2 separate regions of the Homo sapiens genome follow, and region 1 is linked to region 2. The links come from fine-mapping of genetic effects on plasma protein levels. A gene starts in region 2. The other region holds a variant in brackets. All regions are shown on one strand. Distances are from middle to middle.

Region 1 (2,919 bases), 10 kb after region 2:
GCATCTGGCTGGATAATGTTCGTTGCTCAGGGGAGGAGCAGTCCCTGGAGCAGTGCCAGCACAGATTTTGGGGGTTTCACGACTGCACCCACCAGGAAGATGTGGCTGTCATCTGCTCAGGTGAGTCCTACAGATGGAGTTCATAAGGGCTGGCAAGGAGGATGATAAAGGAAGAGGAAATGATGGGGGTGTACTCTGGGGAAAAGGGTATTTTCACAAGCGCCATGAAGCTGCTCATAGTCATCACCTGCTCTGTACTTCCAGGGATATGGCTGGAAGTCCAGGCCCTGTGGTAGGTTTTATTCCTGGGGCTGGTGGGTAGAGGTAGGGCTGACACTATATACGTATTGATCGTGAGAACATACAGGTATTGAATGTAAAAACAAGAGGCGTTCTGAAAATTATTTCACCAACATTTTTATATTAAACATAGTAAACATAAAGTGAGAGTCGGAGAAAATAAGCAACCTTCAAAAGCATTAAAATTGCTTTCAAATCATATAGCAGAACCATAATAAACCATCTTTACTCTCAACCCAAGGTTATTCTCTTGGATGACCCTAACCTTGAAACTCTAAGTTAAACTATCAAAGAGGGTTCTACCTCATTCCATTTGTCATCACTCCTAGATTTTAAACTAGTCTGGGAGAGTGGGACTACAGTAGGGAGCTTTTTGAGAATGCCCATAAGAGAGTTATCAGAGAGACCACAATACCAGCCCTGAACTGTAGAACTCTTCAGAGGATTGAAGGAAGAAGCCCTTTCCCAATTTGGGTTAGAAAATGCAAGTGCAGCCGCTGCGTGGCTGACTCAAAAAAGCCACCCGTCTGAAGCCCCATTGTGTAATCAATGTGGGGCTACTTGGTTAAACCACTAACTCTGGAACTAGATAAGAACTGATAGTTGACCAAGGTATGTGGGAAGCAGTTAGTGCCCAGAGAAGAATAAATACAGCTGCAGGAGGCTAGGGTTTGAGCCAGGCTGCTGCTACTTTGAAGCTGTGTAATGTTAGTCACTTAACTCCTCAGAACCTAAGTGTTTCCATGGGTAGAAATAGAAAGACACTTGTCCGGTTTACCTCAAAGACTTTGTGATTGTGTGAGGATAAGATATGTTGATAGATGTCAGTACTGTTTGTGACTCACATGGAGCTAGTTGAGTAAGTCCCTGGGATACTGCACAAGGTTCTGGCCTGGCTCACATCAGTGTGGGATCTGTACATGGCTTAGCTCTTTTTCCTATGTTGAGCCCCAGTCTTCTCCCTTAGCTAATGTGAGTTTCAACTGAATAATTCCTTCCTGGACTATACCCATCCTTACTGCATTTTCCTCTTCTCTTTATAGGATAGTATCCTGGTGTTGCTTGACCTGGCCCCCCTGGCCCCGCCTGCCCTCTGCTTGTTCTCCTGAGCCCTGATTATCCTCATACTCATTCTGGGGCTCAGGCTTGAGCCACTACTCCCTCATCCCCTCAGGAGTCTGAACACTGGGCTTATGCCTTACTCTCAGGGACAAGCAGCCCCC[A/T]TTGCTGCCTGTAGATGTGAGCTGTTGAGTTCCCTCTTGCTGGGGAAGATGAGCTTCCATGTATCCTGTGCTCAACCCTGACCCTTTGACACTGGTTCTGGCCTTTCCTGCCTTTTCTCAAGCTGCCTGGAATCCTCAAACCTGTCACTTTGGTCAGATGTGCAGACCATTACTAAGGTCTATGTCTGCAAACATTACTAATCTAGGTCCTATTACTAATCTATGTCTGCAAACATTAAAGGAATGAAACAATGAAAGGAACATTTGAAAGAAAATGTGGGTAGACAATTTCTTGCAACTTGGGGGAAAGTTTAGAATTCTTTTGATTGGACTACTTTTTTTTTTTTTCCTCAAGCTTCAGGTGACCACAATAGCAACACCTCCCTATTCTGTTATTTCTTAGTGTAGGTAGACAATTCTTTCAGGAGCAGAGCAGCGTCCTATAATCCTAGACCTTTTCATGACGTGTAAAAAATGATGTTTCATCCTCTGATTGCCCCAATAAAAATCTTTGTTGTCCATCCCTATACAACCTGCCAACATGGTTGACATTTAATGAGAGGAATGTCAAAAATACATTTTACTTTATTCAAAGAAAAATATATTGGTTACTGGGAAAAGGTCAAGAAAGAGGCAGAAAGAGATCAGGGAGGGCTAAAGTTGTGTCTTATGCCAAGCGAAAGTGAAAAATATCATTTTCACTTTATCAACTGAGACTTTGGGGCCTGTAAGCTTGAGGCAAGACAGAAATAAGAGAATCAAGACTTGATTGTAAAAATTGACAACTTTAGATTCTGAGGCTAGGCTGAGTACTTATTATACGGCTACATTTACACATTTACACTTATCTAATAAATCAGATTTCACAGTCTCAACAATTGCCTCTCTGTGTGATATGCTCTTTCTGCCCACAGAGAAGCAGCTGTGTCAGATTCTCTATGGCAGTTTCTTAAACAGGGTTAGGTAGAAGAGAACCTTCCAGTTACAACCATATGTGTAAAAAGCTGTCCTCTGGGTGTGCAACTGTCTCCCAGTCTATTTCTGCTCCAACCTGTGTACCCAAAGACAGTTCTGCTGCTCCTGGACTTCAGGCTAACACACTTCTGATAGGCCAACTCTAATGCCATGCCTTTCTAATCTGACATTTTTTTGCTTTCCTTCTAACCAGTGTGTTTATGTTTCTAACCCAGAACCACACTGGTCTCTGGCTCCTTACTCAATTAATTCTGTCAAAACAGTTCAATCATCAGGGAAAGACAGAGAGTGGGAGGAGGGGTGCAGTGGGACAGGAGGAGAGTGGGAGGGAGAGAGCCCACCACTCGGCTGGGAGTCCGGAGGCAAAACTGTGATTCCTTAAGTCACTGCCTGTCCTAGAGGATTCATTCTTAAAGCACTA
Region 2 (2,919 bases):
ATGTAGTTCATCAACAGTAAAGATGATATTTTGAACCTTTTCTGAATTCTGTACCTATTACTGTGTCACTTCAGAATCTAGAGAGGGAAGGATGTGAATAGTTAGCATTTACAAACTCATTCATGATATACCCTCCATTATCTGGCTCTTGTTGCTACTTGCATATCATCTAGTGTCTTTACCTTTCAACATCAAGAAGCCCTGGCCCCTGATCACTAAGCAGGCTGTAATCCAGTCATTCCAAACTACCTGTGGTTCCTTGAATAAGTAATGCTGTTTCACTTGTCTGCATATGCATAGCAAAATCTTTTCCTATTCTGATTCTCCACTTAACTCATCCTAAACCCCTGCTCAAGTATCATCATTGCTGTGAAGTCTTCTCTGATTAGCTCCAAACATAGTAACCATTTCCTCCAAGGTTTCATTTCTTTTTCTTATTTTAGAGATGTGATCTCACTCTGTCACTCAGGCTGAGGTTCAGTGGCCTGATCATAGTTCACTGCAGCCTCAAACTCCTGGGCTCAAGCTATCCTCCCAGTTCGGCCTCCCAAAGTGCTGGGATTACAGATATGAGCCACCTCGCCTGGCCTCCAAAGTTTGTTATACTTTTCTCTCTTAACAGTGGTTTCCACATGTTATTGCAATTACTAGACCATATATTTTTACAGTGCAAAACTATCCCTTGTTCCTTCATGTACTGCCTCCACCCATCACATTGCCTGGCATTCATGAGTGCTAAAAACTTTTCATTGAATACAATACTAAGTAAATGAAGAAATGTGGGATTAAAAATGAATGCCTACAATGAACCAAGCTTTCTGCTGAGTTACCTGAATATTACAAAGAAGCAAAAATTATTACTGTAGAGGAACAATTACCCTGCTTGGAATGCAGAGATTATGTCAGCATACAAAATTGATTGCTTGATCAATCTGGAGTAGAATAGCTCATGAAGCATAGCTATACTTAATAATATAGCAAAGCAGAGGGGCCTGAGAGGGTCTTACTGCTTAATCTCTGTCCATCATGTCTTAGACCTACAGACAACTTGAGTTCAATGATTATGATGCCCCTCACCTCAGGGATCTGTTTCCATCCAGCTTCCAAAGATGGGCATACACCAGCACAAGCATAGAAAAATAACAAATCTGTATATTGGACCCTCTGCTTAGCAGTGAGAAAGCAGGTTTGAAGACAATAAAGCCAGGCCTGTATGTGGAGATTGGCACCATGACCCTGGATTATGTTTTATGGGATATGCCTCCAAGGGCAACTCTGCATTTATCCCATGGCCTCTGGCTTCCAAATTTTCTAGGCACTTCCCTCTGGGGTAAAGGAATCAAAATTGGCTTATTTCCCTTGCAAACCATCCTTGGCGACTAAGTACTGCCTTGTCTTCTACTGAGAGATGGCCATATTTTTGGCACCTGCCTTTCCTTGTGGGAGGTGTTTCCTCTGTTTACATAGCAAAGGGGCTGTAGGAGAGACAGACGGAGCTGGACTTACAGCAGAACCAAGTCATGATAGCCTGTTTCTATTTTGTTTTCAGCATTTTTCCGCCAGTTCTGGCCACCTCCTTTCCTCTGGAACATGCTGATTTCAGCAAGTCCAGCTCTGTCAGCTCTGCCCCCCGAGTCTATTGGTTTCTGATCATCTGATAATGCTTTGCCTGCACTCAGGACCTGTCTTTGTCCCTCCTCTTAACATACTTGCAGCTAAAACTAAATATTGCTGCTTGGGGACCTCCTTCTAGCCTTAAATTTCAGCTCATCACCTTCACCTGCCTTGGTCATGGCTCTGCTATTCTCCTTGATCCTTGGTGAGTATCTCTGCACCTGTTGGTTTAGGCTTCAGAGTTTTCTGGCACTTTGATTAGGAGAACTTTCTCCCCGCCAACCTGGAACAGATTTAGATGTTTTTCAAGGATGAGCTTCTTCCTCCTTTTTACATTTGGTAACTATTCTAATCCTTAAAAAGCCGCTTAATCCATACACATTTGTAATTCACTTTAACAGATTTTTTTCTATTTTCTTATATTTGTAATGACAGAGTCATGATAGTTTATCCCATTTCTCTTTTTACATAAGTGTTCCTAAATGTACTATTAGTAAGAAGACAAATGAATGGGCACCGGGCAGCAGCAAGTAGAGCCAGGAAAGGAAGTAGAACTGCAAGACAATCACCTTTCATTGATCATATTGTCTGGTTTCCTCTGAAAAGTGTTTCATATAATGTTTTTCTAGTTTTCTTCAGTTTCTCATTGCTTAGAGTAATCTAGAGATTAACCTAGTTAATCTGGTGATTGTGGAGCCAAGGAGACCTGGATTTCAATCCTGCCGTTTTGATTTCTTAGCGGTGTGAATTCGTAGGTTACCATACCTCTCTGAAATTTTGCTCTCTCATCTATGAAGTGAGGATAATATTATGTTCCTCAGAGGTTTTTAGGAGTATTTTTTTTTATAAGATAACTAATATAAAGCATCTAACAATGCCTGGTAAATCCCTATGCTAATCAATCACATCCACTTTTATGTCTTGATGATCTAGTACATCACCAAAGCCCACACAATCCTCTCAACTGGACACTTTTGTGTTCAATGTAAGGTACTGACCACATCTTAAACATCCATGCATCCCCCACATCACTCAACGGCTAGTCCTGCCCCTCATGGATATACTACTGGGTCTTCCAGGCTCATGTGCACTTCCACCTGCTTCATGAAGCCTTTCTGGCCTGTGCCTTCTGCAGTTACCCACCCTACTGCAGAGCTTCCAAGTCACTTACTGGCTATATCACGTTTGCACCTGCATATCAGGCTTGCCATGCTCACTTTCCTTCACATGTACACATGTTGGGTTGGGGTTATGCAATGATTCCCATATGTATAATATAACCTTGAGTTTTGGATAGTTGCAGAA

Alleles and levels. Positions count from the first base shown, and alleles are read on the strand shown. Strength reflects both the effect of a copy and how common the allele is.
As copies of A replace T in region 1, the plasma level of the protein whose gene starts at base 1,685 in region 2 goes up (weak association).

The links. A credible set is the group of variants that fine-mapping cannot tell apart. PIP is the posterior inclusion probability: the model's chance that the variant is causal. The UK Biobank Pharma Proteomics Project read protein levels with antibody pairs (Olink). The fine-mapping took linkage between variants from a reference panel, not from the people measured, so its PIPs are less certain.
Region 1: its variant is the best candidate, but not a certain one, in a credible set for the plasma level of the CD5L protein (UK Biobank, PIP 0.57).

Annotation. Positions count from the first base shown.
Region 1 is chr1:157,830,393-157,833,311 of GRCh38, reverse strand. It overlaps CD5L (CD5 molecule like), which reads left to right. Exons shown (of 6, transcript NM_005894.3): 5 at 1-120; 6 at 1,344-2,401. The coding sequence ends at 1,348. Among named protein-coding and RNA genes, the nearest start is that of CD5L, 10 kb to the left of the region's middle. The variant A/T (reference allele first, on the strand shown) is at 1,524.
Region 2 is chr1:157,840,574-157,843,492 of GRCh38, reverse strand. It overlaps CD5L (CD5 molecule like), which reads left to right and starts at 1,685. Exons shown (of 6, transcript NM_005894.3): 1 at 1,685-1,819. The coding sequence starts at 1,792.